Linked DNA regions of Homo sapiens: region 2 is linked to region 1. The links come from fine-mapping of genetic effects on gene expression. Tissue or cell type: whole blood. Region 1 holds a variant in brackets; the other region holds the start of a gene. All regions are shown on one strand. Distances are between the middles of the regions.

Region 1 (8,106 bases):
CCTTTACCGGCATCTACATGTGGAATTAACACATCTTCTAAACCCAAATCAAAGCGTTTGTGTTTTGAAGAGTCTGGAAGGAAAAAGAATGCCCCAAAACACAGAGTGATGAAGGCACTAAGAATAAGGAGAAGAATAAACTTCTCAGAAAGTCTCAAGGTAGCCCTGTGATGTGGGAAGGAAGGCGGCCCCAGGTTCAGAGGTGGTATCCTACGTCCAGAGAGGGGCAGCAGGGCTGGGGTAGTCATCGTTTACGCTCTTGGAGAGAATACTTTAGAAAGTTCTCATCTTATGTCAAATGTAGAATACATTGAACTGTCTTCAAAATCTTGGCCAAAATGGGAAAACTCAATTTTGCTCCTCTTAAAGGACTGTTGTGCTTTTTAAGAGGGCACGTCATTCACGCCCATCCATTCCCACTCAGAAACGTGTGTGACCTCCCCCAAACGATCACAAGTTTAGGTCCTGCGATATCCTCTTCAACATCTGTACTTCATCGGATTATTACAAGCCTCCTCTTCATTCCTAGGGGTAGATCAGGCAAGCCACACTGCAGAAAAGCTGCAAGGTGGGTTCTTCCATTCCTGCACCTCAGTGAGATGCTCAAACGTAGTCTTCCGCCCCGAAAGGGAGACTGGCGACATCCGAGGAGTTGTAGAAGGTTCACTTGATCTCCTTCGACGCTTCTATTCCAGAATCTCTTAACCTTAGCGGTGGAAAAAATAAGGGTCTCCCACGGACGTCTGCAAACAGGGAGGAAGGTCTCCCACTTCGCTGGGAAGCCGAAGCAGCGGCGCTGGGCGAAGTAGCAGGAAGGAGTTCTCGGCCGCCCGCGCTTCCCGGCGCTGCCTGGCAGGAACCTGGCGCCCGGCTGAGTCCCGCTGCTGCCCACTCGACGGCTGGCGCGAAGGGCAATAGCGTCCGAAACACCTGAGTCCGGCCAGCCGCCGCGGCCGCCGCCGCTGTTGCTACCGCACGGGTCTGTCAGGGAGCGGAACTTCCTCCTCCGGCGGCCACTGAGAAGCCCCGGCGTGTCCTGGGGGAGGGGAGGCGCGGCGGCCGCCCCCGCCGAGCTCCTCCTCCTCCTCCTCCTCCTCTTCCTCCTCCTCCTCCTCCTCTCCGCGGCCGGTTCAGTGAACCCCGGCGCCTGCTCCCCGAGCTAGGCCGCCGGCCGCAGTGGCCGAGCCCTCGCGCCTAAGAAGCCGAGCCGGGGCCCACGCTCCGAGAGCCCGGGGTAGGCGCCGGCTCATTCCTCACTCAGCCCTGGAGCGGCGGGAGGGCCTGGGCGCGCGGGAGCAGCCGCGCCTCGGGCGGGCAGAGGTCGGCCGCGTCTCCTTCCTGCCCGGCCGCGGGGGCCTCCTCCGCGCCGCCTCCGGTGGCTCGCAGCTGCTGGCTCTGGCGGCGGCTGCCAGAGAGGCAGCGCGCCCACGCCGCTCGGGGCTGCGGCCCGGTCCCCGTACCCTGCCTCCCCAGGCCTGGTGAGCGCAGCAGCTGCTGGGCCGACACCCGTTGGGCTCACGCCGGAGAGGAACCGGAGGGCGGGGGCGATGGGACCCGGGCCGGCCTACCGGCCCCGGCTCGCGAGTGGGCGTCCCCGGGCGGCGGAGTGTGAGGTGCGCGCGCACGCTCCCGGCTCCGCTGCCGCCGCCCCTCCCCCACCCAGCCTGGCTGCCCGGGCTCCGGCCTCGCGCCGCTGCCGGCTCCAGCAGCCCGAAAGCGTACTGCTGCCGCCGCCGTCTGAGCGCGAAAGAAGAGAAGGTCGCCGATCTGCGCTGCCACGAGAACTTCACCGGTGCCCAGGGCCTTGCCACCGCCAGTTCGTGGGGTTGACCCAGCGTTTGGGCGAGAGGGAGCGAGGGGTTGGGTCGCGAAGGTTTCGCTGAAATGTAGTGTCACCGGAGTTAATGGCTTCTGATGGCTTAGGTTAACGTTTACTGTGATTCTTTGGAAGTCTTGTCTTCAGCGATAGACCGTCAGGCCCGAGGATTCAGCAACAGGGTCTCAAACTTCCACGCAGCAGCCCATGCTCACGTTATTGGGCCCCCGAGGCTCGATTAATAGAGCACCAACATGTGCCATGTTACGTTTTTAAAATAAAGTGGTGACCCTGCTCCTTCAGCTGGGCTTCCTTTCAGAGGAATCTAGGTACCCCCGATATGACAGGCGTCTCTTCATTGTTCAGTTTCTGGGGCACGTTCTATCATCTTCACACACCTCATCAACCCCCTTCCCATAAAAGAGAAAATGGATGAATAAGGAGGTGCTGAAACCCAAAAAGGCGACAATATTGTTTACGTTCAGGCTTAAAAACAATCTGAATCAATTCTGTTCTCCGTAGTATTGAGGAGAGCCATGTTGTGATTAAGTGCAAAAGATTTCCTTGCAAGATACATAGACTCTTGCATCCGATTTACTTGCAGGTTGTTTTTGTTCTAATATTGTCATTCCCTGTACACATCCTTTACTGATGACTGGGAATTGGAGAGGAGGCCCTTAAATGTCAGGAGAGTAAGTCAGCCTTAGCTTAAAAATCAAGCAGAAAAGTCTCATGTTCATTGGCACACTTGTAACTACATTCCAGTCTCCCAGTCTGCATTATTTCTAGAAGCTCTGCATATCTAACTGCCTACCACATGACAAAAGTCATTGTCATTGATCCTGCTTCACCAAATAAAAAGTAAAAATATTGAGGGCCACCTCTCACCAGTTCACCCAGGGAGACTGGTAAGCAAGGAGTGCCCGGTCCCTAGTGAGATTTATGTTGAACATTTGTGAAGAGTAGATATAAGAAACTTTTAGCCTTCCCAATATGTCTTTATAAAATGTGCCAAATTTAAGAATAAGTCTCTAATGTTGAGACTCCGTAAGCCAAAGTGGGGGGGGCGGTGGGGAGGCGGGGAAGAACACACTGTTTTCCTACTGTTGAGATCATTAGTTTCCATGAAAAGTTCAGGGGAAATAAATACTGAACTCTGAATGAAATAGCAAGTTATATAAATCTTGAAAAATAAATATTACCTAGGTTAACACTAGACTTAACCACAAGAGATTTCAATCATGAAACCTGACATAACCTAGTTGACAAGTATAGCTTAAGCAAGTAAGACCTCATTGCTGATGGAGAAGACCCCTTTTCCTTTGCTTGTCTGTTTTGCAAAATTCATTTTTCCTTCATGAGAGTAAAAACAATTTAGGGGTTATTGCAGATGTCCAAATGCAGCCAGCAATTTTAAAGTCATTGATGATACCGTCAGTTATCACACTCCTACACCAGCAATGAAAATACTGTATACATAGTATTACATATATCCACTCTTCTAAAGGCAAGTCTGAGTTTTTAAAGAATCATGTTGTTTAAAAAAAAAAAAGTTGCAAATGTATCCATTAATTATAATTATATGCACTTAAAAACATAGAAAAAGAATATTTGAAAAAGATTGCAACTATTCTGTTAAGATACTGGTTTTACGTATGATTTTCTCCATTGTATTCTGTTGCATTATATTTACAATTAAATAAAAATTATAAAGGAACTGGTGCCTGAAAAAGTTAAGGTCAAATTTCAAATAGGTAGACTCGGTAGTATCAAGATGAACACACAGACCGGCCCATCTGAAGGCAATCGGCAGAAACAGTATGCAGCCTGTTCTATGTATGTGTGTATGTGTGTGTACACGTACAACAGGGAAGGATTTCATTCCAGAGAGTCTAAAAAGAATATTTCATTTTCAAAGAGTAGTTACCCTTTGATCAGAGATTCCAAAGTGATGATTTCCCTTTTACAAATCCATATAAATTAATATTTTAGAAATTAGAATTAATAAATTACTAACAAAATTTACTCCTGCAGATTTACAGGACCACTCCTAAGATCCACTCGTATTGCAATGTGGAAGTTACTTGTATTTGTTCAACCATGTGTTGACTTTTCTATTATTGAAACCATTTCACACCTGTTATACACACACGCATGCACACACACACACACACACACACACATACACCCCTAGCTCTGTTTTAAGTGAAACTGAAGTGCTACAGGAAAAAAATAAAAGCTGGTATGCAAAAAGAGGCTTTTGATTTACTTATGTAACCTGTTCCAACTGGTGCCCAAAATGTACAAGGAAGATATTGGAGGAGAAATTACTCGACGTGACCACTGAATGTGTAGGGAAATAACAGGCTTCAGCCTTGCTCCTTCCAATCTTGCTTTCCTCTATGAGGCATTTTCCTCAGAGGTCAGGGATAAACTGAAGTTCAGTGCTGTGAAGCCCTCAAGTAAGATCCGTGAAAGTCGGCAAAGCCAAAAAATCTTGGCTGCTTCTCTGAGCCAAAGTACGTGAGGCTCATTTGCTTATAAAAGACTCATTTGTTGGAGGACTACTATTTGACAAATCCTGTACTAGGTGCTGGAGATTTGGAGAAATAAGTCAGAATCCTTATGCTCAGTGAGCTTGCAGTCTAGTGTGGAGGAGTAGATGAACACTGACGATTACAAGACAGTGGGAAGAATGCTGTTGGAGCAAAGTGTCACGGGCTTTATGGGAACACTGAAGGTGCCACAGAGTGAGAGGAGGTGGATTGGGAAAGTTAGGGAAAGTTCCCCAATCCAGTGTCACCTGAGCTGAGCCTTGAACCATAAGAGAAGGGTCGTGCTCCAGCCTAGGGAGCAGAGCA[T/C]GCGCAGGCACCCATAGCTGGTTTTTCCTGCCATTTACGCAGAACACTTCCTGCTCTACTCGTCCAGTAAATAGCTTGCCTGGCCCTAATCTCACAACACTCTTGAGCTGGGAAAGTGAAAATGGTGGGGCAGTGCTATTGCATTGCAAATAAAATGGGTTCAGAATGACTAATGGGTATTGCCAACATGTTTCTGTAATGAAAAGACATAGATGGTATTCGTGCTTTCACAGGCAGTACCCTCTTGTTTCAGGCAATGTTTCACCTCTTTAAATCCATTAATAAAGTGAAGCCCTTTAAATGTATATGAGGTACTGAACTAGGAGTCAAAAGACATGGATTTCAAACCTAGCTCTACTCCTTACTGAGTTTCCTTATTTATAAAACATAATAGTCCTTACCTATTTTATAGGACTGTTTAAGGATCAAATGAGCTATTGTTTCTAAAATGCTCTAAAGACTTGTTTGTTCTATTCAGAATAATAGGTTGCTGATGGTTGTGTTTGTGTGACTTGGAAACATGAAATTCCAGTTTGTCTAGCATTCCTTTAGAAAACTATCTTTTCCCCGGTCTTAGTCTATTGGTCTAGATTGGGATGACCTCTCAACCACCCACTATAGCACTTGCTCCCACCATTAACTAGATCCAGGAATGTTACCCAGATTTGACTAACCTGTGTTCCACATTTCCCTGGCCATAATGATTGGTTTGGAAAAGGGCAAGTGACACAAACCAAGCTAATCCAAACCCTCCTTAGGTCATTTCCTGATGTCATCAGCAAAAGTGGTATCTCTTTACCTTAGAATTCCCAGCCCTGAGCGTGCTATAACCTTAGAGCTGCCAGTGGCCTTCTTGCCACCATGTGAGGAAGTTTGCTACTAATGAAGCAAACAGAGAAGAAAAGAGCTGAAACAGTGAGAGAGAAAGTATCTACATGGTATCACTTGAGCCCTTGGTAAGGGTGGATCTGGGTCTTGTGGGGCTGGAAGCATACCTAATTTGAGGAGTCCTCTTTAAGAAAAATAATACAAAATGAATTATTAAAGTGGATTTTAGGGCGGGTGTGGTGGCTCACACCTGTAATCCCAACACTTTGGGAGGCCGAGGCAGGTGGATCATGAGGTCAGGAGATTAAGACCATCATGGCCAGCCTGGTGAAAACCCGTCTCTACTAAAAATACAAAAATTAGCTGGGTGTGGTGGCGAGCGCCTGTAATCCCAGCTACTCAGGAGGCTGAGGCAGAAGAATCGCTTGAACCCGGGAGGCAAAGATTGCAGTGAGCCAAGATCGCGCCACTGCACTCCAGCCTGGTGACACAGTGAGACTCCATTTCAGGAAAAAAAAAAAAGGATTTTGCTAAACTGAATTCCATTACAAGTGAGTATGTCTTAGTAATGCTGAGACCACACCACCACCACCCGACCCACGCGACCAATGGAGCAGTGTGACGGATAGGAAATCAGAGTAGAAAAGAAACCACAATCTTAACCAATCGTGATTGAAATATTTTATTTTTACAAGATTTAGAAAAACATGATTATGTATACATGTTGCTAGGACCTCTCCCAGAGCCTAAGACAGGACCGAGCAATTAGTAACCCAGAAATTTAAACTTCATTGGGCTCATTGTAAATCTACTTCTCTGAATCCAGGTATATCTAAGGCTATTTCATCTTTTGAATTTCTCGGTTGTATAAGTCTATAAATTTCTTTTTCAGTCAGAATTAGTTTCTGTGGCTTACATTCAAGAGTCTTGACTAATACACAGTGTGTCTTTACATGGAGGTATTGTGGCTGGTAGTAGTATGTGAAGCTTCAGTAGTTTTACAAGTATAAGTGATCAGGGACTAGAAGGAACCTACTCTTTCAGGTAGGCAACAAGCTTGGGCAGGGACAAAAGCAGAATGAAACCAGCAGAGATGTCTCTGTGGTCGGCCAGGGAAAGAAAACCTAAAACTGGGAGGGCTGGACAGATGTGACTGCAGAGGTATATCAAAGCTAGCAACCCCTACAGAAACCTTCCAAGTTGGATCCTCATATCCACCTTTATGAAAAGGAATTTGACTCCAAAAGAGGTTAGGAATTCTTTATAAATCCTTATATTAAAATTGTTTTAAATCCATTCTAGGCAGCTAATTTGAGAATATGTTTCATTGATTTATATATTCATTCATTCATTATTATTGAGCACTCACTCTCTGTTGGTGTTATGCAGTGTTCTAGGCATCCAGAGATGAATAAAACATGAGAAGCAGCTGTATATGATGAAAAGAACATGGGCTCTGGAGCTGGAGAAACCTGGGCCTAATCTTGCCTCTGACATTTACTTGCATAATATTGGAAACAAAGGAAATCTTACTTGTTCTTAATTTATTCATCCATAAAATCAGGATAAAAATACACACCTCATAGGGTTGTTATGAGGATTAAACTCAATAATGTATGTGATAGTGCTTCCCCCCATAGTTGGGATTCAATAAGTATTAACTATTGTTTTTATTATAGGCATTAGAAAAAGTAAGAGTTGGTAGATAAAGAGAGGAAGGAAGAGCCTTTGAAAATACTTACAGGGACCAGGTGTGGTGGCTCACACCCGTAATCCCAGCTTTGGAAGCCTGGGAAATGTGGTGAGACCGTGTCTCTACAAAAAAATTTAAAAATTAGCTGGGCACGGTGGTGTGCGCCTGTAGTCCTAGCTGCTTAGGAAGCTGAGGTGGAGGATAGCTTGAGCCCAGGAGTTCAAGGTGTAATAGAGCAAGTCCTTGTCTCAAAAGATAAAAGAGAGGGAAGAGAAAGGAAGGGTAGGGGAGGAGGGAAGGGAAGGAAAGGAGGGAAAGGAAGAGAAGGAGGGAAGGGAAGGGAAGAAGGGAGGGGGGACAAGGAATAGAGGAAGGAGAAAGGGCATGGCATGTGTTAAGGGAAACTCGTCTCCCATAGCTTGAGCCCAGGAGTTCAAGGCTGCCATGAGCTATGATGGTACCACTGGACTCCAAACTGGCAAGAGCTTGTCTCCAAAGAAAGAGACAAAAGGGCCAGGTGCGGTGGCTCACACCTGTAATTCCGGCACTTTGAGAGGCCAAGGTGGGCAGATCACCTGAGGTCGGGAGTTCGAGACCAGCCTGACCAACATGGAGAAAACTCGTCTCTACTAAAAATACAAAATTAGCCGGGCGTGGTGGCACACGTCTGTAATCCCAGCTACTCAGGAGGCTGAGGCAGTAGAATCTCTTGAACCCGGGAGGCGGAGATTACAGTGAGCCAAGATTGCACCATTGCACTCCAGCCTGGGCAACAAGAGCAAAACTCTGTCTCAAAAAATAAAAATAAAAGAGACAGAGAGGGAAGGAAGAAAGGAGGGAGGGAGGAAGGAAGGAAGGAAAGAAAAAGACAAGACTTAGAGGAATGAGAAGGAGCATGTCCTGTGTGT
Region 2 (8,106 bases), 610 kb after region 1:
TCTGCGTTACTGAGAAGGAAGAAAATGGAAATTATCAACATTCAGCAACAGAGTTAGTACATAGTCTAGAGGTTGGGTCACGAAGTTTGCCCGTCTCTTCAGAATGGAAATATTTTTTTTCTACTTATAACAGCAACACAGTAACATGATTGTGGTGATGGTTGCAAAACTCTGAATATACTAAAGGCCGTTTTAGTGTATGGACAAATTGAATGATAGGTGAATTATCTCAATGAAGCTGTTTAGAAAAAAAAGAAAAGGTCATCATCCTTGCCAAAAAGACCTCTGAGTTTGAATCCTGACTTTGCTCCTGTCAAGCAATGAGACCTTGGACAAGCTGCTTCTGACTAGGTCTCTGTTTTCTTATATATAACAAGGAGATAATAACAACTAGGTCTCAGTATTGTTGGGCGCTTTAAATAAGATCATGTAAGCAAGCACTTGACCCCTAACTGGTAGCCATTATTTCCGCCGCAATGCTAAATGTGACCCAAATGTGAAAACACCAACATGGTCCCCCATGTAGGGCTCACACTCAAAACAGGACACTCGAGTTCTGTGCTGTTTGGAGTCCTGAGATCTGTGGTTTCCAGAGCCCATAATCAGAGGCTCTTTTCAGCGCCATGCTCAACCCCACTACATTTCTACAAGGTGCTCTCCACTCAAGGTTGCAGGACTAGGGTGTGGAAAGTTGTCACTTCAGGGGAGCTGACAGTGTCTGGGATTGCTGGAGTGGGCAATCTGACACTATCTGGGATTGCTGGTAGGCCCAGGTGCTGAAGATGGGGCTGGAGACAGAGAGGAAGAAGGTGGGGTCCCTGCTTCTGGCGACATTTTCTGTGTGAAGCACAGAAATGCTTATTTGCTCACTGAATGGCTGGCCTGTGCTCATGCTGGGGTTCCTGTCTTCCTCCCCAAGCCAGCTTCCTCTTTTCCCTTCTTATCACTCCCTGCCCAGCATCCGTGGGCTTTCAACTCCAATCATTGTACAAGCTGATAAAATATTTTTAAAAGTTTAAAGCAGATTAAAAATTACCCACAACGCCACCACTCAAAGTCAATAATGAATAATATTTTCATGTATATCTTTAGCAGATATTTTCTATTTATATGTATATATATAAATAATATAATATTTCAGCTGGGAGAGGTGGCTCATGCCTGTAATCCAGCACTTTGGGAGGCTAAGGTGGGCGGATCTCTTGAGGCCAGGAGTTCAAGAGTAGCCTGGCCAACATGGTGAAATACATCTCTACTAAAAATATGAAGATTAGCCAGGTGTGTTGGCATGCGCCTCTAATCCAAACTACTCAGGAGGCTGAGGCATGAGAATTGCTTGAACCCAAGAGGCAGAGGCTGCAGTGAGCCAATATTTCACCACTGCACTCCAGGCTGGACGACAGAGTGAGACCCTGTCTCTTTCTGTCTGCCTCTCTCTCTCTCTCTCTCTCTCTATATATATATATGTAATATTTTAAAAATTAAAACTAATTTATGTGATCTTACAGTCTGCCTTTTCCCCTTTATTGTGAAATTATATTATGAAGTTCTTTTCTTAATGAACATCAATAAATGCATATATGCATCTTTTTAAAGGATGCATTCTTAATTTAACTGATTAATAAGTTTCTAACTGCTGACTGTTCTAGTATTTCGCTAACATGAATAATGCAGTGATGGGCACCCTTGTGGAGTAGTACCTCCGTATACATTCACTAAGATAGCGTCTTAGAACTGATCCAACCTAAGGCCTTCCATGGATGAGAACTCCTTAATTCTGAGTTGCTGGGATTAACCCCTTCCCTACTAGCATCTGCTTCTAAGGGGCCCTCCATTGCCTCTTCAGCCTGCAGCAGCAACTCCCTCATGAAGGAAATGCAGGCACAACTACTGGAGTTTGAGAAGTTTGGAGGCCGGGTGCGTGGTTCACACCTGTAATCCCAGCACTTTGGGAGGCCGATGCAGGCGGATCCCCTGAGGTCAGGAGTTTGAGACCAGCCTGACCAACATGGCGAAACCCCGTCTCTACTAAAAATACAAAAATTAGCCGGACGTGGTGGTACATGCCTGTAATCCCAGCTACTTGGGAGGCTGAGGCAGGAGAATCGCTTGAACCTGGGAGGCAGAGGCTGCAGTGAGCTGAGATCATGCCAGTGCACTCCAGCCTGGGCAACAGAGCAAGATGCCATCTCAATTAAAAAAAAAAAAAAAAAAAGAGAAGCTTGGAGAAACAAAGAGATGTGGGAGGGCATTAGCACTGAGAAAACAGGCATTGTGCCCCAGGCACTGCAGGACACTTGTACACACCTTGTCTCACTGAATATCCCTTGAAGTTGTCATTGGAAAAGCAGACTCACAGCAGATAGGGAATTTGCCCAAGGCCATGGTCACCTTAAGTCTGGTAATAGTGACCAACTACAAGTTGAATCAAGATGTTGTATGACATTGACGTGCACACACATAAAGCAAGTCACTGTCTTTCGGCTAAAGGGTGAAGGGTTTCTTTTTGGGGCAATGAAAATGTTGATTGTGGTGATGGTTACAAAACTCTGAATATACTGAAGGCCATTTTAGTATATGGACAAATTGAATGGTAGATGAATTATCTCAATGAAGCTGCTTGGAAAAAAAAAGAAAAGGTCGTCATTCTTGCCAAAAAGACCTCTGAGTTTGAATCCTGACTTTGCTCCTGTCAAGCAATGAGACCTTGGACAAGCTGCTTCTGACTAGGTCTCTGTTTTCTTATATATAACAAGGAGATAATAACAACTAGGTCTCAGTATTGTTGGGCGCTTTAAATAAGATCATGTAAGCAAGCACTTGACCCCTAACTGGTAGCCATTATTTCCGCCGCAATGCTAAATGCGACCCAAATGTGAAAACACCAGCATGGTCCCCCGCGTAGGGCTCACACTCAAAACAGGACACTCGAGTTTTGTGCTGTTTGGAGTCCTGAGATCTGTGGTTTCCAGAGCCCATAATCAGAGGCCCTTTTCAGCGCCATGCTCAACCCCACTACATTTCTACAAGGTGCTCTCCACTCAAGGTTGCAGGACTAGGGTGTGGAAAGTTGTCACTTCAGGGGAGCTGACAGTGTCTGGGATTGCTGGAGTGGGCAATCTGACACTATCTGGGATTGCTGGTAGGCCCAGGTGCTGAAGATGGGGCTGGAGACAGAGAGGAAGAAGGTGGGGTCCCTGCTTCTGGTGATATTTTCTGTGTGAAGCACAGAAATGCTTATTTGCTCACTGAATGGCTGGCCTGTGCTCATGCTGGGGTTCCTGTCTGCCTCCCCAAGTCAAGCGCAGCTTCTTCTTTTCCCTTCTTGTCACTACTTCCCCAGCATCCCCCCGGGCTTTCAACTTCAATGGCATTTCGATTCCACTTTCTCTACCTTCTCTCCCTTGCCTAAGCCACCTTTCTCTATGCCTGACCCTTATTATCCTCATTCTTCCTATTTTAGAGGCACCCTTTGGTCTAGGCCAGTGGCGATTGACTTTGGCAGCTCATTAGAATCCCCCAGGGAGCTTTAGAACCTAATGATACCCAGGCCGCATGCAAAAAAAATCTGATTTAATTGGTCCTCACTCCACTTGGATTACAGCAGCAGCTTTCTAACTAGTCTCCCTAACCCCATCCTCAATATCCACTCCTGTCCTCCCAGTACAGGCAGAGATATACAAAGCCACACCTTGTGCATCTTCTACACATATCAGCAAAAATCACCTGCCACCTTGTATCACTCTGACAAGCAGATCCAAAATAAGGGCTGTTCATCCTTAAATATGTTGTTTCCAGCCCTTTTCTGCCATATAACTCCTCCTTCAGGGCAGCCTGGCTTGAAATGGGCTCTGTCGATGAAAGGCCCGCTGCTCTCCAGTCAGCCTCTTCTTCTCGCCCCACTCTTAGCTCGCCGATTCATCAGCAACCTGGAACAGTTGCCTTTTCCCTCGGCCTACCTGTGTCCCCCTCCCGATTAATGCCACCTTAATCCAGGTTCTTCACCCAACCCCACATTCCTGTAACCACCTGAAGACAGAGTTGTAGGCAGGTAGACTTGAGGGTCTATCAGATGTGTGGATCCCATTCCCGCATTGGACCACAGTCTCCACTGGGGCAGGAGACATGCATCTGGTTTCCTGTATAGCCCCCCTGGAGGCAGAGGTCAGCGCTGGGGAATATTAGAAATGCTATTTTCCAACTTGCCAAATAGCACCCACACTGAAATAAAGCAATTAAGGGAATGAACACTTACCTTGAATCTTCAAATCAAATATTTTTTCCAACACATTTTTTCCTTTTGTATCATATATTGATACCTTGTAGATATCCTGATCATCGGTCTTCAGATGCTTAATTTTCAGAGTTCCATTTTTAAATAGCTTATATGTATCTTTTTCCTTGAAAGTCTCTTTCTCTTTTCTGAATTGTGCAATCTTTTTCTTGTCTGAAGTTTTTTCCCATTTTATATCGTCAATATCATCACTCATTTGAAAACTAGGAATGTCCAAGTTGATGTCCTGACCCAAGGCACCCCAGGTTTCCAAGGCATTCGTAATCTCTTTGGAGACTGCACCTATAAAAAGCAAAAGAGTTACTGAGAGTCACTTTCAGGGAAAGCTGGGTTGGGACTTCTTTGACTCTTATGCTTACCTTTGGAAGAAACATTGAAAATCAGAAGGAAGCTGGCTACAAATTTACATGGAAAGCTCATCTTAGGGGTTGGTTTCCTCTTTTGATTCTGAGCTCTTCATGCAAAAGGAACTGAAGTGAGACTGGTGGAGTCCACACCCCGAGAGCTTAACCACGTGCCTCTCTTTACATCTTTTACAGTAACATAAAACATAATACACATACACAGAGAGCAAGAGCGCGCACAAGCCAGCCCTTCTGATGTGCTCCTTTGCCAAAGCAGATGTGTTTATGAGTGTGTGTTTTCTTGCTGCATTTTAATTCTCACACAAAAAAATTGGGAAGGATAGGTTTTCTCATCTCAGTGAAAGAGAAAAGGAACAGAGAGGCTAAGTAGATCACTAAGGATCACTCTTTTGTAAACAAGAAGCCAAATTCAACCACACAGCCTTTTATCCACTTAGGTATACTGTCCCTAACAAGACCACATAGAAATATAGGTAAATGTTCACAAGCCAATAGCAGAATGCAAACATTTATCCCATATGATTATATTGAAAAATGTAGACCCATAAAATGATGAGGAAATTGATTTTTTTGTTTCTCCAAAGATATTTTTCATGTTCTAAAATCGTTTTTGTGGTGAAAAGAAAGAAATTGAATATCAGCTGTAAATGCTTGCAATCCCCAAATCCTATGTTCGGCATACATTTTACAACTCTAGTGAAATTCACAGTTAGATAAATAAAAACTTATTCCAAAACAAAGAAGCATAGAGACTATGAAATATAATTAAACTACCAAAACAAAGGAGTCAAAAGCATTTAAAGTGATTAACATTATAGGTGGTTAAGAAAAAGGAGAGATTAGGAGAAAAAATAAATGAGAGGGAACAGGGAGAGAAAAAAAGAACAGAAATTTGTGACACAAGGAAACAGACAGTGATGCAGAGACGGGTGTGCCCTGAAAAGATGCCTAAAAAGAGAAATAACCATGACAGACTTCCAAAGCACATTTTCAGGGTTATAATTCTTTAGGTCACAGTGAGTAAAAATTGCAAAAGTGGTGCTCGTTTTCTTTTTCAACTTTAAGTACAAATATGGATATTATCTGTCAGAAAGTTGCCAAGGAAATGAAATTAAGTCAAAGCAGTTGTTTGCTGTTACTGGGTAAAAGAAAGCCAAATATTTACCTCATGGTTGTATGAGCGTCATCCACAATAATGAACTACAGTTGGATTAAAGTTTTAAATGCAAAAATACTATAATAATGCTAAAAGGAGGCCGGGGGTGGTGGATCACAGCTATAATCCCAGCACTCTGGGAGGTCGAGGCGGACCTCCTCACCTGAGGTCAGGAGTTCAAGACCAGCCTGGCCAACATGGTGAAACCCATCTCTACTAAAAATACAAAAATTAGCCAGGTGTGGTGATGTGCGCCTGTAATCCCAGCTACTCAGGAGGCTGAGGCAGGCAAATTGCTTGAATCTGGGAAGCGGAGGTTGCAGTGAGCCAGGATTGTGCCACTGCACTCCAGCCTGGGGAGCAGAGTGAGACTCTGTCTCAAAATAAATAACTAAATAAATAAAATAATAACAATAATGCTAAAAGGACAATATAGAAAGATATTCCTATAGTTTGAGTATGGAAGGCCTGGCTACATATAACATATAATCCAAAGTAAGAAAGAAAAGATGAACACAACTGATGATATAAAGAAGTAAGATTTACATGCAGATGAAGAAATAAGGAACAAAATGAAAAGGCGTGACAAAATATTTGCAATATATATAAAATTATTAATATTCAAAATATTCTTACCAATAATTCTTACCAATCAATACAAAGTAGTTTTTAAAATGGGCAAATGATATAAATGATCAGCTTGCAGAAGAAATATTTCGCAGAAGAAATATCAAACCTACAAGAGGAGTCTAATGTGACCAAAAATATATGTATATATCTTAGCTATAAAATACCATTTTTCACCATCAGATTGGTAAAATTAGAAAAGATGATAATTTACATTATTAACATGAGTGTGTGGAGAAATGAACCCTCATACAACATCAGAGGGAATGTAAATCAATACCTTCTGGGGAAAGGAATTTATCATTTCCACCAAACTTTAAAATTTATGTCTTTTTCTCACCTAGTGATTTTAATTTGAGAAATCTATCCCACAGAAATGATTGCACAGATGTTTTAAAATTCTGTTCAAGGACGTTTGTTGTAGCATTTTTGTAATAAAAAATTGCAAACAACTAAAATTATGGTATATCCATATTATGAAATATTGTATAACCATCAAAATAGTATAACATAGGCCTAAAAGTAAGACATGGAAAGATGCTTTTGGTAAATCACATGAAAAGAGCACATTGCAAAACAATATCTATAGGATTAGTCCTTTTTATATATGATACTATGTTTATACTATGCTATGGGTATACCAGTATACCATAGCATACTATGTTGTTATTAAGGTATGTGTTGGAAAAAAGCCTGAAAGGGTTGATGCTGAATTTTTTTACAGTGCTTGTCTTTCAGGTATTAGATTGTGAGAGAACTGAAATGAAATTTTCACTTCTTACCTTTGTAAACCAAAAAGAATTTGAGACAGATCTCAATCAATTTAGAAGTTTATTTCATCAACATTAGGGACAAAAAGGAACACAGAACCACAGGAAAAATCTGTGGTTTGTGCCTTTTTCTCAAGATTATTTCAAAACCTTCAGTTAAGGGGAAAAGCTGGCCAGAGGGGAAGGAGGGAGGGTACAGTCACATTACTGAATCCATATGTTGCAAGAGAAAAAAAGTAGGTAGGGGAATGGTCAATTTGTATTCTTCTCATGCTCAGTAAATTGGCACTTTCTTAAGATAAGGTGAACATAGAGTAGCTACCCGTGGAGACAGCAGCTTTTTATCTGTAACTCTCTGCTTAGGAACTCAAGGAAAGGCAGTTTCTTGTGTGACTCAACTTTCAGCTTAATTTTTCCTTTTGGCATAATGAATTGGGGTCCCAGGATTTTATGTTTCTTTCACATTTTATTTATTTCTGTGAAGTTTAAAATTTTGGAAATAAGCACCTTTTTTGTTAATAAAAAATGTCTTTTTAAGAAAGGATGCTTAGGGCACACGTATTTTTTCAAAAGTATCGCCAACCCAGAGGAGCAGCATGGAGCTTCCTGTTTGTGAGTGGCTGACCCACCAGCTGCCATCCAACTCCAGTGTGTCAAGGCCTGGTGGAGAGAAGGTGGCGCCAGCCATCCTCTGACCCATCTCAGCTTTGGAGGGCGCTTGTCCTCTCTTCCTCACACTTTCCTCATGGAGCATGTGAAGAGCAGCTTTCTGTTCCTCTATTTGAAACATTAATTTTGCTCCTCTAAAACTAATTCAATTCTGAGTGATGAGCATGGCTTCAAGGGCAGAAACAATGAAAAAGAAAGAGGTCAGTAGATTTGACTCTGTAAAAT

The links. PIP is the estimated chance that this variant, and not a neighbour inherited with it, causes the effect.
Region 2: CD2 starts here. The variant in region 1 is fine-mapped to the expression of CD2 in whole blood (INTERVAL, PIP above 0.99).

The regions. Positions count from the first base shown.
Region 1 is chr1:117,360,326-117,368,431 of GRCh38, reverse strand. MAN1A2 (mannosidase alpha class 1A member 2) reads right to left here and starts at 983. Exons shown (of 13, transcript NM_006699.5): 1 at 1-983. The coding sequence starts at 248. RefSeq lists an enhancer at 1-57 and silencers at 928-1,747, 4,668-4,727. The variant T/C (reference allele first, on the strand shown) is at 4,678.
Region 2 is chr1:116,751,101-116,759,206 of GRCh38, reverse strand. It overlaps CD2 (CD2 molecule), which reads right to left and starts at 4,777. Exons shown (of 5, transcript NM_001767.5): 1 at 4,654-4,777; 2 at 4,256-4,576. The coding sequence starts at 4,714. RefSeq lists promoters at 4,660-5,102, 4,660-7,257, cis regulatory regions at 6,161-6,190, 6,528-7,027 and a silencer at 6,024-6,527.